Homo sapiens: one gene and its partners. The protein of the gene in region 1 interacts with the protein of each later gene in a pairwise test. Each region holds a gene or a part of one and is shown in the gene's direction. Other genes may lie near its edges.

Evidence for each region.
Region 2: the proteins of TLNRD1 (region 1) and CCM2 interact in binary tests that used the Homo sapiens proteins (3 or more experiments, as listed by UniProt).
Region 3: the proteins of TLNRD1 (region 1) and SH2B2 interact in binary tests that used the Homo sapiens proteins (3 or more experiments, as listed by UniProt).

What each region holds. Positions count from the first base shown.
Region 1 is NC_000015.10:80,996,910-81,004,022, forward strand, and holds the start of TLNRD1 (talin rod domain-containing protein 1), read left to right. Parts: upstream 1-4,013; 5' UTR 4,014-5,232; coding exon of another isoform or gene 5,233-5,362; coding exon 5,363-6,451; 3' UTR 6,452-7,113. Other genes in the region: umcharacterized LOC128071545, read left to right, coding at 5,233-5,370. UniProt on the Homo sapiens protein: Actin-binding protein which may have an oncogenic function and regulates cell proliferation, migration and invasion in cancer cells.
Region 2 is NC_000007.14:45,003,107-45,010,256, forward strand, and holds part of CCM2 (cerebral cavernous malformations 2 protein), read left to right. Parts: intron 1-7,150. UniProt on the Homo sapiens protein: Component of the CCM signaling pathway which is a crucial regulator of heart and vessel formation and integrity. May act through the stabilization of endothelial cell junctions. May function as a scaffold protein for MAP2K3-MAP3K3 signaling.
Region 3 is NC_000007.14:102,296,809-102,303,958, forward strand, and holds part of SH2B2 (SH2B adapter protein 2), read left to right. Parts: intron 1-3,713; coding exon of another isoform or gene 3,714-3,742; coding exon 3,743-4,471; intron 4,472-7,150. UniProt on the Homo sapiens protein: Adapter protein for several members of the tyrosine kinase receptor family. Involved in multiple signaling pathways. May be involved in coupling from immunoreceptor to Ras signaling. Acts as a negative regulator of cytokine signaling in collaboration with CBL.

The sequences.
Region 1 (7,113 bases):
TTAGCTGCGTGTGGTGGTGGGTGCCTGCAGTCCCAGCTACTCGGGAGGCTGAGGCAGGAGAATGGCATGAACCCGAGAGGCGGAGCTTGCAGTGAGCCGAGATCGCGCCACTGTGCTCTAGCCTGGGAGACAGAGCCGGACCTCGTCTCAAAAAAAAAAAAAAAAAAAAAAAAGATATTATGTTAAGTGAAATAAGCCAGGCACAAAATAACAAATATTGTATGGTTCCACTAACATGAGGTACCTAGGGTAGTCAAATTCATAGAGAAAGTAGAATGGTGGTTGCCAGGGACTGGAGGAAGGGGGAGTGGGGAGCAGTTACTTAATGGGTATGGAGTTTCAGTTGGGCAAGATTAAACATTTCTGGAGATAGAGGATGGTGATGGTTGCACGATAATGTACTTAACAATGGGTAAGATGATATTATGCTATTTTACCACGATTTAAAACATAAAAACAAAACAGAATGCCCATAATGTTCTCTTATACCAAGTGGTGGATGCACCTTCTAAAACAGGCAAGAGACGAGGTAAAAGATGTTTCCCCAATCCTGCCTGTCTCAACCTGTCAGTTCCTCTTGTCCTGCCCAAATCCTCAGTTCTCTCTTTGCAACTTGTTCACTTACTTTTCATCAGATGCCTATTTCAGTGTAGGCCTTGAGCCAGTATTGAGAATGCATTCTCTAGGGGCCAGGCCATTTACCAGCTCCCTCTCATCCACTCCATTTACCTTCCCTCAGCCAATCCTCAGTCCACACATTTTCCGCTTTCTTCTCTCACTCAACATCCATTAAAAAAAAAAATACTTAGTCCATTTGAGCTGCTATAACAAAATACCTTAGACTGGGTAATTTATAACTAATAGAAATTTATTGCTCACAGCTCTAGAGCTGGGAAGTAGAAGATCAAGGCCCCAGCAGGGGCCCATTCCTCATAGATGATGCGTCCTCTATGTTGCTGCATCCTCCCATGATGAAAGGGCAAAAGAGGTGAACAACTCTCTCACACCTCTTTTATAAGGCCACTAACCCCATTCAAGAGGGCTCCACCTCATGACTTAACCATCTCCCAAAGGCTCACCTTGTAATACTGTGACACTGGTGATTAAGTTTTAACATATGAATTTGGGGGTCAGATCACAGCAAATACTTTTGATTTATATTTATTTTAATTTTGAGAGGGTTAGAAGGGGTAATAGGTGGAGTTTTCTAAAGAAAAAGCCATTGCTTGAGTGACTCTAAGGGCAGACACCAACAAGCCATCCTCTAATTAGACTAAAAATATGCAACAGCAACAGACAACCCTCAAATCTCTGTGACTTAACACACCAATAATTTACTTTGTGTTCACATTGCATGTCCACTACAGATCAAGAGGGTCTGCTCCACATGGTCACCTAAGCTTACAGAGGCTCCACCAACTAGAATGCAGTCTCCGTGGTAGTTATAGGAGGGCAAGAGAGTGGAGAATTACAGATTGGCTTTTCATTGTCTCAGCCTAGAAGTAACCTGCATAGCTTCCCCTTACATTTCATTGGTCAGACAGAACCACATGGCCCTGCCTACCTACAAATATTGTATCTGTGAAGCCTGATTATCTCTGCTATAGGTTTTTTACTCTGTGCTCTCACTGTGCCAATAGTGAAATTGTGGCTGTTTCTTGTGAATCTACTCCTATCCCTGGACTCTAAAGAGTGGGGGCCTCATATTACAAATTATGTAACTTTGGTGCCTAGCACAAGACTGGTGCCCAGTGATTGTGGAGTGATTGAACAATCGGACAAAGTAAAGGTGAACCTAAAGAAAGGTGGAGGCAGTGCCTGGGAGGATCAGTTTAGGAGCTTCCCTATCTGAAAAATGAAGCAGGGAAGGCCGAGAAAACAATGCTATCAGTTTTAAAAATGAAACCAAACCTCACTGAATAGAGTGGACAGTCTGTGTGTAACACAACTCATTGTCGGGGTGGGTTTCCATCAACAACAAAACAGACTGCATATGTAGAAGAAAGGGAAAATGGGACCCCCAGGGGCACTACGTGGCTTTGGAAAAAAAATCTGATCTTAGAGCAGCCTCAAGAATAAACTAGGCACAGAACAGTCTGACTTCCCTCTCATAAGTTTTATTTATTTATTTATTTATTTTTTTTTGAGACGGAGTCTCCCTCTGTCGCCCAGGCTGCAGTGCAGTGGCGCGATCTCCGCTCACTGCAAGCTCCGCCTCCCGGGTTCATGCCATTCTCCTGCCTCAGCCTCCCGAGTAGCTGGGACTACAGGCGCCCGCCACCATGCCCGGCTAATTTTTTGCATTTTTAGTAGAGACGGGGTTTCACTGTGTTAGCCAGGATGGTCTTGATCTCCTGACCTCGTGATGCGCCTGCCTTGGCCTCCCAAAGTGCTGGGATTACAGGTGTGAGCCATCGCTTTCGGCCCCCTCTCATAAGTTTTTGGAGCTTAAGAAGGACTAAGGTGCAATCCCTGGGTCACCATGGAAAAACCTTGACTTATCCAGCTGTTTTTTTTTTCTCTTGTAGAAGAAAAAAAGGAATTAACCCTACATAATTACTTCCTATTTCAAGTCAGTTTTATTGACCTCGGTTTGCAAACTAAGTGGGCTCATCCGGATTCTAAAGATATTTAAGGATACTTTCAGTTATAAGTAGGATGACTATCCATCCAGGTTTGAACCTGCTGTTCATGGTTAATTTATTAATAGCATGTCTCACAGTTCATTCTCAGAAATGCTTGGATATGGCCGATAAATTGAAACGTCATCCTAGTTAAAAGTAACGTTTTTAACTGGCTGGAGAAAGGTGACTTGGGGTTCTAGGAAGGGACAGAGGAACAAACATTCTGTTGGCTCAGCACGCCCAGCCTGTGTTGGGCTGGGCACCTTAGAGGACCTGTTTCAGGACTGCGTGACTGGCGTTTTGCTGGGAGTAGCCCAGGTGTTTTAACCACTTCCTGAAGAACAAGGTTCGGTAAAAAGAGGCTGGGGCGTAGGCGTGGGTTCCTGTCCCTGCCATATGCTGTCTTCCTGATCTTCGGAAGTCACTTCAAGCACCTGATCATCAGTTTCCTTATCTGTAAAACTGGAGTAGTAATGTTTCCCTCCAAACGCCGTCGTATTTAATTCATTTAACAGCAGCCACTATTATTCCATTATACAGACGAATAAATAGACGTTATGAGAGGGCAAAGTGCGCTGATCAGGGCTCATAATAATTCTAACAGCTACTGTTTAGGAACCAAGTACTCAAGCAGCCTGTGCACAATCTCTAATTTCTAGAAGAGAAGACGGATACTTGGAAAGAGAACTTGAACAATGTCATGGAACTCATAAATGGCTTGAGAAAGGCTGATCCTAGGAAATCTGCTTCAGAACCCGCGCTCTCACTGCATAAGGCGTATTTCAAGGGAGGAACGGGCAGGCATCTAGCACCACTCTTCGGACTCCCCATCCAGTGCTCTTTTCCTCTTTTCGTTACACTGCACTGCTGGTCGGAAACCCATCGTGGAAGTGGATCAAACACAACAAAGGGCAGGGGGCGTTGGAAAACCGGGCGAAGTCGCGCAGACCGAGACGACCCACCGGCCCCAGCAAATCACCAGGGGCCGAAATCCAGTGTCCTCCTCCCTTCAGCCCAGAAGCCAGGTCACCTTTTAGACTTGCTCTCTTGGCGGGGAGGAAGCGTGGAGCCCCCTGGTCCGGCTAAGAGCTTACGTAAGGCCCGCGGGCGGCTGCGCCCCGGTCTCCCATGGGTGTGCGCAGAGCCCCCGGGCCGGAGCAGGCCTTCCCCTGTCCGCTCCCCCAGTCTCTCGGCCCAGGACCACGGGGGAGTTCAGGACCACCGGCCCCACGCCGGCAGCGTCCGCGTTGGGCGGCGGCGTCCCCCGCAGCCACCCAGCTTCCCGGGGGAGGAGCAGCGCATCGCGCAAGCATCCGGGAGCGGCGGAGGGGGCGGGAGGAAGGGCGAGAGGAGGAAGCGGGATTTAAACGAAAGGCGGTGACGCCACACAAAAGATTTCTATAGGCTCCAGGGAGGTTACGGCCGAGGCGGCGGCGGCGGCGAGCCCGGGGGCGAGGCGCGGACGGGAACAGGAAAAGCCTCCGGCAGCCCCTGCGGGCGGCGGCGCAGCCACGGCCGCGCTCCGAGGTGAAGCCGCGCGCGGAGAGGAAGCGGGTGTTTTCCCCTCTGCCTTTCGGCCCCCGCCCTTCCTTTCAGTTTCTGCCCGCTCGCTCGGAAGTTGGCGGTTGACAAAAATGGCAGGAGCCGGGGCCCGGGCCGGTTGCCGCAGCGCCGCGGGGACCTTCTGAGTTGGCCCGGTGGCAGGGAGACTCGTGCAGGGGCGTCCGATGCGCGGGGCCCGGGGCCTCGGGAGAGCTCAGCTGCTGCGGGCCCCAGACGAGGCGACAGGGATGGACTTGCGTAGACAGCCAGCGCCGGGCCGCCGGGCGCGCGGTCTGGGAGGGCGTGCCGCCGCGGCGCCGGGCCGCGCTCTGTGAACCGGCGAGGCGGGAAGGGGCCGCCGTGGTGCTCGGCACGCCCGGGCGTGTGGCGGGCGGGCGAGAGCTTGAGCGCGATCCGGGCGGCCGCTGTGCGCAATCAGTGCAGGCTCCCGCCCGACTCTGACTCGGCGCGGCCGCGACAGTGCCGGCCACACCCTCTGCCCCGCTGCCGCCGGCGCCGCTTCCCAAGAGCTGGAGGCAGGAGATGCGCCCGGGGCGGCCGCGCGTCCCAGAGAGCCAGCCCCGGCCGCCGTCGCGGGGAAGTGCCGCCTGGTGGGGTCACGGCGCCTGAAGCCCACGTGCGCCGCCGAGCCCGAGGTGGCCTCGAGCGCGGCGGCTGACAGCACAGCCCGCCTGAGCTGCCTCCCGCGCTCCTCCCCGAGGAAAGGATTTTGATTTCAAAGAAAGGAAGGAAGGAAGGACAACTCCCAGCTTCCCCGTCCCGCCCTCCCCGCTCCGAGGGCCGCGCCAGGCCATGCCCAAGAAGGCGGCGGCGGCGGCGAACCAGCAGAAGGGACTTTCCTGGCAGCCCGGCGACGAGGAGCGCGGACAGTGAGTTTGCTCTGCCCCGGTTCATGGTTCCTGCAAGCCCTCTAGGAGGCCGAAAGCTGCAGCCCCTCCCCTTGCCCCGAAGAGCCTTCCGCGTTCTCTCGCCCTCGGGCCCACCCCGCGCCGCCCGGGCTCCCGCCGCCGCAGCCCAGTGCCCTCTGCCCGCGGCGGTGGATGGCATGATGGTGCGGGGAAGGCACCGCGGCCTTGGCCAGCTGAGTCGCGACGGCCGCCGGGGCGGCGGCAGTGGCCGCGGCAGCGGCGGTGGTAGCGGGCTCCCCAGCGGCATGCCAGTGCCCCCCGGGCGCGATGGCTAGCGGCAGCGCCGGGAAGCCCACTGGCGAGGCGGCTTCTCCGGCTCCTGCGAGCGCCATCGGCGGGGCCAGCTCGCAGCCGCGGAAGAGGCTGGTATCCGTCTGCGACCACTGCAAGGGCAAGATGCAGCTGGTGGCTGACCTGCTGCTGCTGTCGAGCGAGGCGCGGCCCGTGCTCTTCGAGGGCCCCGCCTCCTCTGGTGCCGGCGCCGAGTCCTTCGAGCAGTGCCGGGACACCATCATCGCGCGCACCAAGGGGCTCTCCATCCTCACCCACGACGTGCAGAGCCAGCTCAACATGGGCCGCTTCGGGGAGGCGGGGGACAGCCTGGTGGAGCTGGGCGACCTGGTGGTGTCGCTGACCGAGTGCTCGGCCCACGCGGCCTATCTGGCCGCTGTGGCCACGCCGGGCGCCCAGCCCGCGCAGCCGGGCCTGGTGGACCGCTACCGCGTGACGCGATGCCGCCACGAGGTGGAGCAGGGTTGCGCCGTGCTGCGCGCCACGCCGCTGGCCGACATGACGCCGCAGCTGCTGCTGGAGGTGTCGCAGGGCCTGTCGCGCAACCTCAAGTTCCTGACGGACGCGTGCGCCCTGGCCAGTGACAAGTCACGGGACCGCTTTTCGCGGGAGCAGTTCAAGCTGGGCGTCAAGTGCATGAGCACCAGCGCGTCGGCGCTGCTGGCCTGCGTGCGCGAGGTGAAGGTGGCGCCCAGTGAGCTGGCGCGCAGCCGCTGTGCGCTCTTCAGCGGGCCCCTGGTGCAGGCAGTGAGCGCCCTGGTAGGCTTCGCCACCGAGCCGCAGTTCCTGGGTCGCGCGGCAGCTGTGAGCGCCGAGGGCAAGGCGGTGCAGACCGCCATCCTGGGCGGCGCCATGAGCGTGGTGTCGGCCTGCGTGCTCCTGACCCAGTGCCTCAGGGATCTGGCGCAGCACCCCGACGGGGGCGCCAAGATGTCGGACCACAGGGAGAGGCTGAGGAACTCGGCCTGCGCCGTGTCTGAAGGCTGCACCCTGCTATCTCAGGCTTTAAGGGAGAGGTCTTCGCCCAGGACTTTACCGCCAGTGAATTCCAATTCTGTGAATTAGCACCCCACCCCCATACCCCTTCTTCCACCCCCAGACTAAAGGAAGATACTTACTCTCTGCCCCTCTCCATTTATACCAAAGAAATCATAGGTGAAACCCCCTACCCTCCCCAACGTTAAATGCTCGAGAGGAATCTTCCACAAGGCAGGGCCATGCACGCAACCTGCACACGCACTTGGAGGGCCCAGGTGTCTCTCCACCAGCCCCCATGCAGTAGGGACTGGAAGATATGTCATCTGCTGGTTGTGTTATCACTCCCACCCCCTACCCCAGCCCGTCTTCCGGAATTTCTCAACTAAATTTCATTATTGGGCAGGAAGGAGGTCATGGGTTCATTTCATTTTTGTTTTTTGTGTTTTTAATTAAAAGAAAGGTTACCTCAGTTTTCACTCCTTAGACATGGATGTAGCTACCTTTTTTTGTATGTCTTTTTTTTTTTTAAGCAATCGTGTTGAATTAGGAGTATACTTGGTGTGGAAAGAGTATGAATTTGCCATGTGATTTGCAAATGGGGGGAAGCTACTGTGAGCGTGTGTTTTTTTAATTTACACTATAGAGTGATTTTTTTTTCCCCCAACGTCAAGTTTTTACCTTGCATGTACTGGAGTATTTATTTCATCTATTAAAATGTTATGTTTCTCAGATGGCTTTTTGCAATTATT
Region 2 (7,150 bases), on another chromosome or scaffold:
CTCTTGTTGCCCAGGCTGGAGTGCAATGGCACGATCTCAGCTCACTGCAACCTCCGCCTCCCGGGTTCAGGTGATTCTCTTGCCTCAGCCTCCCGAGTAGCTGGGATTACAGGCGTGTGCCATCATGCCCAGCTAATTTTTGTATTTTTAGTAGAGACGGGGTTTCTCCATGTTGGTCAGGCTAGTCTCAAACTCCGGATCTCAGGTGATCCACCCACCTTGGCCTCCCAAGGTGCTGGGTGGCTGAGCCACCGCACCTGACAGTAATTCCTTTTTATTAGAAACTTGGATGCACTTAAGTTGGGTTGTGTGGATTTTTATACTCAGATCACAGCCCAAAAAAGCTGTCTTGTCAGGGTTGGGTGTAGGTAATCCTAACACTTTGGGAGGCCGAAGCAGGCGGATCACTTGACACCAGGAGTTTGAGACCAGCCTGGCCAGCATGGTGAAACCCCGTCTCTACTAAAAATACAAAATTAGCTGGGCGTGGTGGCATGTGCCTATAATCCCAGTTAGGAGGCTGAGGCAGGAGAATCTCTTGAACCCGGGAGGTGGAGGTTGCAGTGAGCTGAGATCATGCCACTGTACTCCAGCCTGGGCAACAGGGCAAGACTCCATCTCCAAAAAAAAAAAAAAACCATCTTGTGGCCTTAACCTTGTGGGTCTCAGCTTCTCTGCTGCCTCTGGTCTTCGGTTGCCCCACCAGGTGGCTATGATTTCACACTGATCAAAGTTAAATATTTTTACATTCATCTAGTTTATTTGCATTGTTTAAGGTAGAAAAAGGTTATAGGTTGAGTGTAGTGGCTACGCCTGTAATCCCAGCACTTTGGGAGACTGAGGTGGGAGGATCACTTGAGCCTAGGAGTTTGAGATCAGCCTGGACAATGTAGTGAGACCCTATCTCTACAAAAAATAAGAAAATTAGCTGAGCATGGTGGTGCATGCCTGTAGTTCCAGCTACTTGGGATGCTGAGAAGGGAAGATCGCTTGAGCCCTGGAGGTCGAGGCTGCAGTGAGTGTGATTGTGCCACCACCTGAGTGACAGCAAGACCCTGTCTCAAGAAGAAAAAGAGAAAAAAAAGGTTATAAAGTTCCCTAGAAATGTAGGACTAGATATTAAATAATAAATAAGGAATTATTAATTTTGTTGGGTATGATAATTAAGTTCTGATCTGATAGGCATGTATTCTGAGATATTTGTAGGTGAAATAATATGATTTCTGGGATTTGCTTTACTCAAAATAGAAGAAACAAAGGGGATAGCTGAATGCTTTGGTAATGGTTATATATTGTTCTGTCTACTTTTATGTATTTTTGAGAATTTCCATAATAAAAAGTGGAGGGGAAAAGATCCTCTAGGTTACAGGCCCTGAACTATCAGCTGCTGTAGTCACTGCTGGACCAGTGTCTGTGAGGAACTGAAAGCTTGGATTGGACCAGTACCTTTTAAAATTTGGTCACTGCAGGCACCAGGAAGCCATACCTTCTCCATGCTGACCTGATGCAGACATAAATGTGTGTGTCTGTATAACCGAAGTGAAAGTTTAAAGGAACCACACTTAAACGCTCTGATTTTTTAATTCTATTTTTTTTTCTTTCTATTACAACTGGTGGTTGGCCAGGTGCGGTGGCTCACACTGGTAATCCCAGCACTTTGGGAGGCTGAGGTGGGTGGATCACCTGTCAGGAGTCTGAGACCAGCCATGGTGAAACCCCATCTCTACTAAAAATACAAAAATTAGCTGAGCGTGGTGGTGGGGCCTGTAATCCTAGCTACTTGTGAGGCTGAGGCAGGAGAATTGCTTGAACTCGGGAGATGGAGGTTGCAGTGAGCTGAGAATGTGCCATTGCGCTCCAGCCTGGGCGACAAGAGTAAGACTCCGTCTCAAAAAAAAAAAAAAGGCTCATGGTCATGACCCACTAAACCGATTCTATAACTGTCACAAGCCATACTTGGGTTCAGAAGGTGAATTGGGGCTGCTATATTTTGTTTTATTTTTCCTCTTGGGTAGCTATTGCAGTGATTCTTGGATGGCAACTTGGTAACTCAGGGTCAGGAGGCTGGAGAACCAGGCAGGAGGTGCTCAGCAGAGAACCTAAGGCAGCCAGTAGGTGAGGCCAGAATGATCGGCAACATAAGGCTGGTTACTTTTCTGTCTTGAAGAGTTACCATTTACATAGTATGTATTTGTTAATTTTCAACATATTGTCAGATTCTGTCATAATTTAGATTCAGAAAGCACATCAGAACCTTCCAGGGCTGCTCTGAGCATCCTTTCAGAGGAAGATAGTGTAAAGCAAAACGTTTCTCTTAGCAATATTATTGCAGTGAAGGGCTTCCCTGCAGACGAGAAGGGCGTCTGCAGTCTGCCCCACTGGGGCGCTTACTCTTGATCTTCCAGTTTTTTCATTTCCGTCAGCAGTGCCCCCTCCTTGTTGTCACTTTGCAGTGTAAGTAAATGGTCATGATTAAGTCCTATAAACCTAACTATTGAGCATTTAAATCACCCTCTATTGTTGGTTTACGTGGTGGCGATACAAGTTTTTAGTGAGATAACTTGGTCATGCCTTGCCTATTATGTGCTTAGCCCACTGAGAAGAGGGTTAGGGACATTGCACTTTGGAAAGTAGGTCACTTACACCTAAAATTAGAGACTAAAGGCAGACCTAGGATGTCAGAAGAGACATGGGGCAGGCAGCAGCCACTTCCAGCCAGGTTGAGACCGGGACTGTGTCCTGCAGTTCAGAAGCAGAGATGAGGTGGAGAGGACCCCCCAGTCCTGGGAAGTCCTTGGGCTGGGAAGTTGGGTGTTGGTTCTGTATGCACTTGAAGCCACTGGAGGTGTTCCACATCATGCATTCACTTGTCCATTAAACTATTGTTTATTAGCACCAATGGTGTCAGACACAGATGCTGGAGACTGAAATGTGTACGGTGAGCCTGTGGCTGCAGAGCAGGAAGTGGAGCCCGGGGATGGATGGTGGGAGCAGGCTTTGGTAAGAGTGATCAGGAACACCTTTATGAAAACTTCAAAAGCAAATGTAAAGAAAAAAAATCATGTAACGAAGTCCCCTGTGCCCATGTGTGGGCAGTCAGTTTCATGTGCACCTTCTCCTCATTCCTGCTTCCTGCCTGTGTGGGCCGAATAGTGTCCCCTCAGAGTCATGTGCTGAAGCCCCTACTTCCAGGACCTCAGGATGTGACTGTATTTGAAGATGGAGTCTTTTTTTTTTTATTTGTTTTTATTTTAGACGGAGTCTTGTTGCTCTGTCACCCAGGCTGGAGTGCAGTGGTGCAATCTTGGCTCGCTGCAAGCTCCGCCTCCCAGGTTCCCGCCATTCTCCTGCCTCGGCCTCCTGAGTAGCTAGGACTACAGGTGCCCGCCACCACACCTGGCTAATTTTTTTGTATTTTTGGTAGAGATGGGGTTTCACCGTATTAGCCAGGATGGTCTCAATCTCCTGACTCCGTGATCCACCCACCTCGGCCTCCCAAAGTGCTGGGATTATAGGCTTGAGCCACCATGCCTGGCCTGAAGATGGAGTCTTTAAGGAGGTGATTGAGGTAAAATGAGGTAATTGTGTGGGCCCTAATCCAATCTGATGGATGTCCTTATAGGAAGTTATTAGGACACAGAGAGGAATGATCATTGGAGGACTCATGGAGAAGGCAGCCATCTGCAAGCCAAGGAGAGACCTCAGGAGAAACCACCCTGCTAAATTTACCTTGATCTTGGACTTTCAGCATCTAGACTCTAAGAGAATAAGTTTCTATTATTGAAGCCACTCAAGTCTATAATACTTAGTCCTGGCAGCCCAAGAAGGCTAATGCACCAGGTGATTTTGAAGCAAACCCTAGAGTTCAGTTTGTAGATAGAAGTGCAGTAGTAACTCATCAAGACAGAAGAGTAACAAGCCTTATGTTGCTGGTCATTCTGGCCTCATCTGCTGGCTGCCTTAGGGTCTCTGGGGTGAGTTCTGAGGACCAAGTCTACACTGTCAACATGGCCACGGACGAGCTGCTCAGAGTGACAGGACAACCCTCACTGTGCTGTATGTAAACCATAAATCACAGCACACTCTTTGTGGTTGGGAGAACATGTATGGTGTTTTGGGAGCTGGCACAGTCAGGGATGTCATTCATTTCATCTGGGACAGGCTTTGTGCTCTGGGATCTGTGGCGGGAGCAGTGAGCCCAGCCATGTCCTCTGCATGCATCGCTGTGTCCTTGTGAACAGTGGATCTTTGTTAGCGCGCTTCGCACTCCTTGGCTTTTTTATCTTTCAATCAAGAACAGCAACTGCTCTTCAAATGATTCTACAGGTATGAGGGAGTTTACATTTGGATTTGTCAATGGAACCATTAGGATTTTTTGTTTGTTTGTTTTGTAAAAATAAGAACTTTTTTCCTTAGCCTTGTGTCTGTGCCAAAAATGTGACCTTTTTTTTTCTCCCAAGTGTGCCCAAACAGTAACAATTTTTTGCTTGGATTATGTTAAGAATTAGGGCATTTGACCATAGGCATTAGATGTATGTGCAATGAAAGTGATCCCCTTTAATAAGCATAATAGGAACATGGAATTTGGGCTTTTGTTTGCAGCTTAGGATGATGGTGTGTCTTGTAACCCAAGGAGGTTTTTCACTTTTCTGAAAGTGAGAAGACTGGTCAGCCTAAACCCGTGGTGTCACTGTTCTTAAGGGAAACCTAGTTGAGGAGTGGGAGATAACCATTTCACATGTTGTTTTTGTACCTTGGAGAAAAAAAAGAGAGAAGCCTTTATTTAAATCTTTATGTCTATTCTATAGTTTAAAATTCCATACAGGTTTTTTTCAAAAAATCAAATTTGCTTCCTGTGTGTTGTCACCATGAGCTCTCTGGTCAGGTGTGGAAACTGAAATGTTTCCCTTGTTGGTTTATGTGGTGGGGTACATTTTTTTTTTTTTTTTTTTTTGAGGTGGAGTCTTGCTCTGCTGCCCAGGCTGGAGTGCAGTTGCATGACCTCAGCTCACTGCAGGCTCCGCCTCCTGGGTTCAAGCAATTCTGCCTCAGCCTCCCAAGTAGCTGGGACTATAGGTGCGTGTTCCCATGCCCGGCTAATTTTTTTATTTTTGGTAGAGATGGGGTTTCCCCATGTTGGCAAGAATGGTCTTGATCTCTTGACCTCATGATCCACCCGCCTCGTCCTCCCGAAGTCCTGACCAATGTGTGCCTCTGTGTGCCACCGTGCCTGGCCAAGGGTACATGTTCTTTTTTTTTTTTTTTTTTTTTTTTTTTGAGACAGTTTTGCTCTTGCCCAGGCTGGAGTGCAGTGGCGCGATCTCGGCTCACCACAACCTCTACCTCCCAGGTTCAAGCGATTCTCCTGCCTCAGCCTTCCCAAGTAGCTGGGATTACAGGCATGCGCCACCAAGTCCGGCTAATTTTGTATTTTTAGTAGAGACGGGGTTTCTCCATGTGGGTCAGACTGGTCTCAAACTCCCAACCTCAGGTGATCCACCTACCTCGGCCTCCCAAAGTACTGGGATTACAGGCGTGAGCCACCGCACCCGGCCAAGGGTACATGTTCTTAATGAGATGCCTTGGTCAGGTCTAAGTGTCAGTTATGGTGCATGTTGATTTTCTGTCAGATGTCTGAAAATGCCCTAGATATGATTATGTCTAGCTAATTTATTACTGCCATTAGATACATCACCTTTACATAGCTTTTACTTTTCATGCTACTGGGTATAGACAATAACCATAGCCCACCTGCCTGTGCACTTCTAATATCAGGCTGAGTTCAAGTTCCTTTCTAAGGCTCCCCCTCTCACTTAGTATTGTCCGTCTTTCTTGAAAGAGGTATGTGCAGCCTCCGTGTTTGCTTTTTCCAGCACATTCTTCCACCCTCAGCATTTTATGATGAAAATTTTTGGGACAGGCACGGTGCTCACGCCTCTAATCCCAGCACTTTAGAAGGCCAAGGCAGGCAGATCACCTGAGATCAGAAGTTCAAGACCAGCCTGGCCAACATGGCGAAATGCTATCTCTACAAAAATACAAAAATAAGCAGGGCATGGTGGTGTGTGCCTGTAATCCCAGCTACTCCAGAGGCTGAGGCAGGAGAATCGCTTGAACCCGGGAGGCAGAGGTTGCTGTGAGCCAAGATTGCGCCATTGCACTCCAGCCTGGGCGACAGAGGGAGCCTCTGTCTCAAAAAAAAAAAAAAAAAAAAAATTTTTGAGTACACCAAAGTTGAAAGAATTTTGCAGTGAATACTTGCACCTAGATTCTGCCACTAACGTTGGCTATACTTGTTTTTTTTTTTTTTTTTTTTGAGACGGAGTCTCACTCTGTCACCTAGGATGGAGTGCAATGGCGTGATTTCGGCTCATTGCAACCTCCGCCTCCTTTGTTCAAGCGATTCTCCTGCCTCAGCCTCCCCAGCAGCTGGGATTACAGGCATGTGCCATCACGCCTGGCTAAGTTTTTGTATTTAGTAGAGATAGGGTTTCACCATGTTGGTGGGGCTGGTCTAGAACTCCTGACCTCAGATGATCCGCCCACCTCGGCCTCCCAAAGTGCTGGGATTACACTCATGAGCCACCCTGCCTGGCCTGGCTATACTTGTTTTATCCCATATCTAGCATTTGTTTATCACTGTACCTGCCCATCAACTCATTTTATTTTTCTGATGCATTCCTCAATAAATTGCAGACATTGTTTCACTTTGATCTAAATACATTAGCATGCATGTCATTAACTAGGGTTCAATATTTGCTTACAGTTTTCTTTTGATGTAAAATTATGTAACAATGAAATACACACTTTTTTTTTTTTTTTAAACAGGGTCTCACTCTGTCACAGAGGCTGGAGTGCCGTGGTGCAATCATGGCACACTGCAGCCTTGACTTCCCAGACTCAAGTGATCCTCCCGCCCCAGTCTCCTCAGTAGCTAGGACTAAATGGGTTTGTCACCATGCCCAGCTAATTTTTTTTATTTTTTGTAGAGACGAGGTCTCACTGTGTTGCCCAGGCTGGTCTTGAATTCCTGGGCTTAAGCAATCCTTCTGTCTCGGCCTGCCAAAGTGTTGGTATTACAGGCGTGAGCCACTGCTCCTGGCCAAATAATACACATCTTCAGTGAATATTAGCTAAATTTTGACAAATG
Region 3 (7,150 bases), on another chromosome or scaffold:
CCGTACAAAAACTTGGTCCCTTTAGCCAGGCATGGTAGCTCTTGCCTGTAGTCTGAGCTACTCGGAAGGCTGAGGCGGGAGGATCGCTTGAGCCCAGGAGTTGGAGGCTGCAGTAAACTGTGATCTCGCCACTGCACTCCACCCTGGGAGACACTGCAAGACTCTGTCTCAAAAAAAAACAAAAAACAAAAAAACGCTTGGTTCTTATCCACAGCTTTGCTTTCCAAGGCTTCAGATACCCGTGGTCAACAGAGGTCTGAAAATATTAAATAGAAAATCCCAGAAGTAAACATACAAATACAAATGTAAATTGCAGGCCAGTCTGAGTAGCAGGATGAAGTCTCAAACCATCCCGCTGTTCTGCCTGGGATGTGAATTATCCCTTTGTCTGGCATATCCGCACTCTGGATACGACCCGCTCGCCACTTAGGAGTTGTCTGGGTTATTAGATCCAAAAAAAATGTAGCGGGCCAGGTGCAAGTGGCTCGTGCCTGTAATTTCAGCACTTTGGGAGGCCAAGGCCAGAGGATTGCTTGAACCCAGGAGTTCAAGACCAGCCTCATCAATAGAGTGAGATCCCATCTCTACACACACACACACACACACACACACACACACACACGCAGTATACAGAGGTTCAGTATTAGCCAGTTTCAAGCATCTGCTGGGGTTCTTGGGACATATACCCCTTGAACGAGAGGGAACTACCATATTTGATCCACACTAGGAGGAGACCCCTCAAGTCCTGGAGTCACTGCAGACCTGGGCGAGAACCCTGGACCTGTCTTGTCACTAACAAGCTGTTTGTCCTTAGGCCCCAAGTGAGGGCTTAGGCGGTGACAGCTGTGACATGCCTGGTGTGCCAAACTCATTCATTTGTTCATTCAGTCAGTGTTTCCCAAGCGCCTGCTGTATGCCCAGCACTGAGGACACAGCCGCTTCTAGGACTGGCAAAATCCCTGCCTTGTGAAACTGGCATTCTCGGGGGAAGGGGGTGGAGGGGACACACAACCAAGCAACTAAATATATGATATGACAGCCGGCAATAAGGATAATGGTGAAAATAGGCAGAGTGCATGAACGCATCAGAGGGAGTATTGTCATCAGAGGGATTTGTCATTCTCAAGAGTGGTCAGGGAAGGCTATCCGCCAAGCCATTGGTTGAGCAGAAACCTGAAGAAGGTGAGGGAATGTGGAGGAAAGAGCATTCCAGGCATGTGCAAAGGTCCTGAGGTAGAAATTTGGCTGCTATGCTTCTGGGAGGGCAAGGAGGCAGGTCCAGCCAGGGAAGAGTGGCAGGAGGTATATCCAGAGGGGTAAACAGAGGCAGATTATGTCAGACCCTAGGGGCTGTGGATAGGGCTTTGGCTTTTACTCTGACTGTAATACGAACCACTGCAGGATTTTGTGCAGAGGAGGGATGTGATCTGTCTTGTATTTTGGTTTTGGGTTTTTGTTTTTGTTTTGTTTTGTTTTTGAGTCAGAGTCTCTATCACCAAGTGAAGTGCATTGTCACGATCATAGCTCACTGCAGCCTCCAAATCCTGGGCTCAAGCGATTCTGCCACTTCAGTCTCCTTAGTATCTAGGACTGTAGGCATGCCACCACATCCAGATTGGTTGTTGTTGTTGTTTTTGAGACAGAGTCTTGCTCTGTTGCCCAGGCTGAAGTACAGTGGTGCCATCACAGCTCACTGTAGCCTCAACCTCCCAGGCTAAGGTAATCCTCCTGAGTAGCTAGGACTATAGGCATGTCACCACATTCAGATCAACTTTTTTTGTTTATTTTTTGGGACAGGGTCTCGCTCTGTCCCCAGGCTGGAGTACAGTGGCCCCATCACAACTCACTGTAGCCTCAACCTTCCAGGCTCAGGTGATCGTCCTGAATAGCTGAGACTACAGGTGTGTGCCACCTTGCCCAGCTAATTTTATGTATTTTTTGTAAAGACAGGCTTTTGCCATGTTGCCTAGGCTAGTCTTGAGCTCCTGAGCTCAAGCAATCTGCTCACCTTGGCCTCCCAAAGTGCTGGAATTACAGGCCAATGTGTAAGCCAATGTGCCCGGCCAAGACAATTTTTTTGTTATTACTTTTTCTTTCTTTCTTCTCTTTTTTTTTTTTTTTTTTTTTTTTGAGATGGAGTCTCGCTCTGTCGCCAAGGCTGGAGTGCAGTGGCGCGATGTCGGCTCACTGCAAGCTCCGCCTCCGAGGTTCACGCCATTCTCCTGCTTCAGCCTGTGCCTGCCCCCACGCCCGGCTAATTTTCTGTATTTTTAGTAGAGATGGGGTTTCACTGTGTTAGCCAGGATGGTCTCGATCTCCTGACTTCGTGATGCGCCCGCCTCGGCCTCCCAAAGTGCTGGGATTACAGGCATGAGCCACCGCGCCTGGCTTTTTTTTTTTTTTTTTTTGAGGTGGAGTCTGGCTCTGTCACCTAGGCTGGAGTGCAGTAGTGGGATCTCGGCTCACTGCAACCTCCGCCTCCTGGGTTCAAGCGATTCTCCTGCCTCAGCCTCTCAGTCAGCTGGGACTACAGGCATATGCCACCATGCCCAGCTAATTTTTGTATTTTTAGTAGAGACGGGGTTTCATCATGTTGGCTAGGATGGTCTCAATCTCTTGACCTCCTGATCCACCCGCCTCGGCCTCCCAAAGTGCTGAGATTACAGGCATGCGCCACCGCACATGGCAGTCTTGAGTTTTGGAAATGACTGGGCTCCTGGGAGGAGAACAGACTTTAGAGGAAGTAAGATCAGGATCCCGGGGACCATAAAGCAGCTGCTGGAGTGCTGCATGCAGGAAAAATAGTTATGCGAATCCCAGGACGGCAGCCTGGACCTGGAGGAAGGAGCTGAGTCCTCGGTATATTTCAAAGGTCCAGCCAGCAGGATTCCATGTGATTTCTTCCTTTCTACCGGGCTTTGGGGAACATCAGAAGAGGTCACTGAGGAAGTGAGGTCACCAGAGGCTCATGGGGACCCCACTTGAAAGCATCCATCATCCCAGCCTCTTCTGCCAGCCCCAGGAATGACCCTGAGGTCCCTGAGACTACTATTTGGGGAGAGAATGAATGCAGGACTGCCCCTTCTGCAGACACCACCTCCTGCCTCCCCAGTTGTCTTTCTCTTATTTTTTGCAGTCTCCCTCTGTCGCCCAGGCGGGAGTGCAGTGGCGCAATCTCGGCTCACTGCAACTTCTGCCTCCTGGGTTCAAGTGATTTTCCTGCCTTAGCCTCCGGAGTGGCTAGGACTACAGGCGTGTGCCACCACTCCTGGCTAATTTTTGTATTTTTACTGCAACCTCTGCCTCTTGGGCTCAAGCAGTTCTCCTGCCTCAGCCTTTCGATGGCTAGGGTTACAGCGTGCACCACCACACCCGGCTAACCGGCTAATTTTTGTATTTTTAGTAGAAACGGGGTTTCACCATGTTGACCAGGCTGATCTCGAACTCCCAACCTCAGGTGATCCACCCACCTCGGCCTCCCAAAGTGCTGGGATTACAGGCGTGGGCCACCGCGCCCGGCCCCAGTTGTCTTTCTCTTTACACACATCCATGCTGCTTGGAATGGCTGCCTGCTGTAGTCCCACAACACACACGTGTGCATGTACACACACACCCACACAGCCCCAGAGAGTCCTAGGGGAGCTGGAAGGAGGGGACAGGTGGGCGCATTGATCACAGGCCTGAAAGTCACTGCGCGCTCTTCTCGCCCGAAGCCGCAGGTGGCTGCGATGGGACGGAAGCCATGAATGGTGCCGGCCCTGGCCCCGCCGCAGCCGCCCCGGTCCCAGTCCCGGTCCCGGTCCCGGACTGGCGGCAGTTCTGCGAGCTGCATGCGCAGGCGGCCGCCGTGGACTTTGCGCACAAGTTCTGCCGTTTCCTGCGGGACAACCCAGCTTACGACACGCCCGACGCCGGCGCCTCCTTCTCCCGCCACTTCGCCGCCAACTTCCTGGACGTCTTCGGCGAGGAGGTGCGCCGCGTGCTGGTGGCTGGGCCGACGACTCGGGGCGCGGCCGTGAGCGCAGAGGCCATGGAGCCGGAGCTCGCGGACACCTCTGCACTCAAGGCGGCGCCCTACGGCCACTCGCGGAGCTCGGAGGACGTGTCCACGCACGCGGCCACCAAGGCCCGCGTTCGCAAGGGCTTCTCGCTGCGCAACATGAGCCTGTGCGTGGTGGACGGCGTGCGCGACATGTGGCACCGGCGCGCCTCGCCCGAGCCCGACGCGGCAGCTGCCCCGCGCACCGCCGAGCCCCGCGACAAGTGGACGCGGCGCCTGAGGCTGTCGCGGACGCTGGCTGCCAAGGTGGAGCTGGTGGACATTCAACGCGAGGGGGCGCTGCGCTTCATGGTGGCCGACGACGCGGCCGCGGGCTCCGGGGGCTCGGCTCAGTGGCAGAAGTGCCGCCTGCTCCTGCGCAGGGCTGTGGCCGAGGAACGCTTCCGCCTGGAGTTCTTCGTGCCGCCCAAAGTGAGTTACCCCATAATCCCACCTAGCCTGGGGGGACCAGAGGAGGCACCTGGGCAGCAGCTGAGGGTGCCAGGGACTGCCTTTGGGGACCGCGTGGTCTAATCTGGTTGACAGGGTGAAGTATTTGGTGCCAGGACCCTGGGAGGTGGGCCTGTCATGCCTCTTGAACAAGTCACCCCTTCAACCCCGGTTCTTCCTTTGCGAGGAAGGGTCCTCTGGCTACACCAAAGGGTTCTGGGGCACTAATTTTTTCTTTTCGTGTGTGTGTGTGTGTGTGTCCGTGTGTGTGTGTGTGTGTGTGTGCGCGCGCGTGTGTGTGTGTCCCTCTGTCACCCAGGCTGGAGTGCAGTGGTACGATCTCGGCTCACTGCAACCTGTGCCTCCCAGGCTCAAGGGATTCTCCTGCCTCAGCCTCCCAGGTAGCTGGGATTTACAGGCACCCACCACGATGCCCGGCTAATTTTTGTATTTTAAGGAGAGACAGGGTTTTGCCATGTTGGCCAGGCTGGTCCTGAACTCCTTACCTCAAGTGATCTGCTTGCCTCAGCCTCCCAGTGTTGGGATTACAGTCGTGAGCCACCATGTCCAGCCTTTCTTTCCTTTTTGTTTTGAGACAGGGGCCGTCACTCAGGCTGGAATGCAGTGGTACAATCATGGCTCACTGCAGCCTTCACCTCCCAGGCTCAAGCAGTCCTTTCTTAGCATCCCAAGTAGCTGGGACCACACACACCGCCACTCCCAGCTAATGTTTTTTATTTTTCGTAAAGACGGGATCTGACTATGTTGCTCAAGTGGTCTGGAACTCCTGAGCTCAAGAGATCCTCCCCCACCTTGGCCTCCCAAAGTGCTGGGATTACAAGCATGAGCCACTGTGCCCAGCCCAGGGCACCGTTCTTGATGTTGTTCAAGAGCCTGGCTACCTGCCCTCCTCTCCTGCAGCCCAAGGGTGCCTGGCACCTCCCAGAGCCGAGGCCTGCAGGGATGAGGGCAGGAGTGACCGAGCACATTCGCAGAGGGCTCCCTGGGAGGTCTGTGTCTGACTCCATGGGGCTCTGCTCTTCCCCAGCTCAGCTGCCAGACTCCAGCCCAGCCCCTGCCCAGGGGGTCCTTTTCTGGCCAGGGGGATGCCAGGCTTCTTTCTGGCTGTCACCAACATTGTTGCTCACTGGCATGCACTGACCCTTCCCCTCTTAGGGGCTGGCCATCAGGTCCCTGGCAGTAGTGTCACGTCTTCTCCAAGGTGGCCCCCCTGCTTTGGAAAGTGGGAATAGCTGTAACAATAGTGCCCACCCTCTGAGAGCCCACAGTGTGTCCAGACCCCAGCCTGGTGGGCATCTGCACAGACACACTGTCATCCTCTGGGTACCCCACCCCAGCGAGGTGAGCACATGGTCCCCAGATTACAGAAGAGAGCGCAGACAGATGCTCAGAGAGGGAAGTGTGGCCTGCCCAACGTCACCCAGCTGGCGGGTGCCAGAGCTGGTCTAACATGGCAGGACATGGTGGCGCGCACCTGTAGTCCAAGCTACTTGGGAGGCTGAGGCAGGAGAATCGCTTGAACCCAAGAGGCAGAGGTTGCAGTGAGCCAAGACTGCACCACTGCCCTCTAAGCTAGGCGACAGAGTGAGACCCTATCTCAAAAAACCAAACCAAAACAAAACAAAAAACTGGGGGCCGAGCGCGGTGGCTCATGCCTGTAATCCCAGCACTTTGGGAGGCCGAGGCAGGTGGATCACCTGAGGTCAGGGGTTCGTGACCAGCCTGACCAACATGGAGAAACCCCGTCTCTAATAAAAATACAGGATTACATGCCTGTAATCACAGCTACTTGGGAGGCTGAGGCAGGAGAATCACTTCAACCCAGGAGGCAGAGATTGTGGTAAGCCGAGATCACGCCATTGCACTCCAGCCTGGGCAGCAAGAGCGAAACTCTGTCTCAAAAAAAAAAAAAAATCCGATCTAATGATACCTGCCACCCTGGTGGTCCCAAGAACGAAAGGAACATGGAAGTGGAGGTCCTTGGGCACTGAGAGGTTTAGGCAGGGGGAGGTTTTGCTGGTGCAGCAGCCGACAGCACCCCCAGGGACCACCGGGGACCCCACACCCACCTCCCGCATCAGGGCCCACTCTGTCCCTGGGTGCTCTCTGAGTCACCCGCCGCTTCTTGGCTCTCTCTCCATCTCTCAGTCTGCTGGGGTGCAGGGGTGTGGGCTCCCCAAGGCTCATTGCCCATGAGCCACATGGGCCCTGGAAAAGTGACTTCCCAGGGACACAGCTACTCTCTGAAGAGCTTTTTCCCCAGGTCCCAGCACCCCTACACTTCCCTAGGGCTTTTTTCCTGCCCAGGCCCCTGCCTTTAATTCCCTGGGAGAAATCCTAGACCCCTAAGCCCGACTCCACTCCTTGTCAGAAAGGGAAACCGAGGCCCAGTGACGGGTGGGGTGGGGCTTACCCGGGGTCACCCAGAGGGCAGGGACAGAAGCCCAGGGCTCCAGTGCCTTGGGCCTGAGTGACAGTCACAGCTGCCCTTCTGTAAATAGCAGTGTCTGCTGCCCTCGGAGAAGGGGAAGGAGCAGCTGGTGCCCGCCCCCGCCCCACTCCACCGCTTAGTCCCAGCAGAGCCCACTAATTTTGCTGCTGGCAGAGGGCAGCGTTCCTGCAGGGTCACTGGGCCCTTCC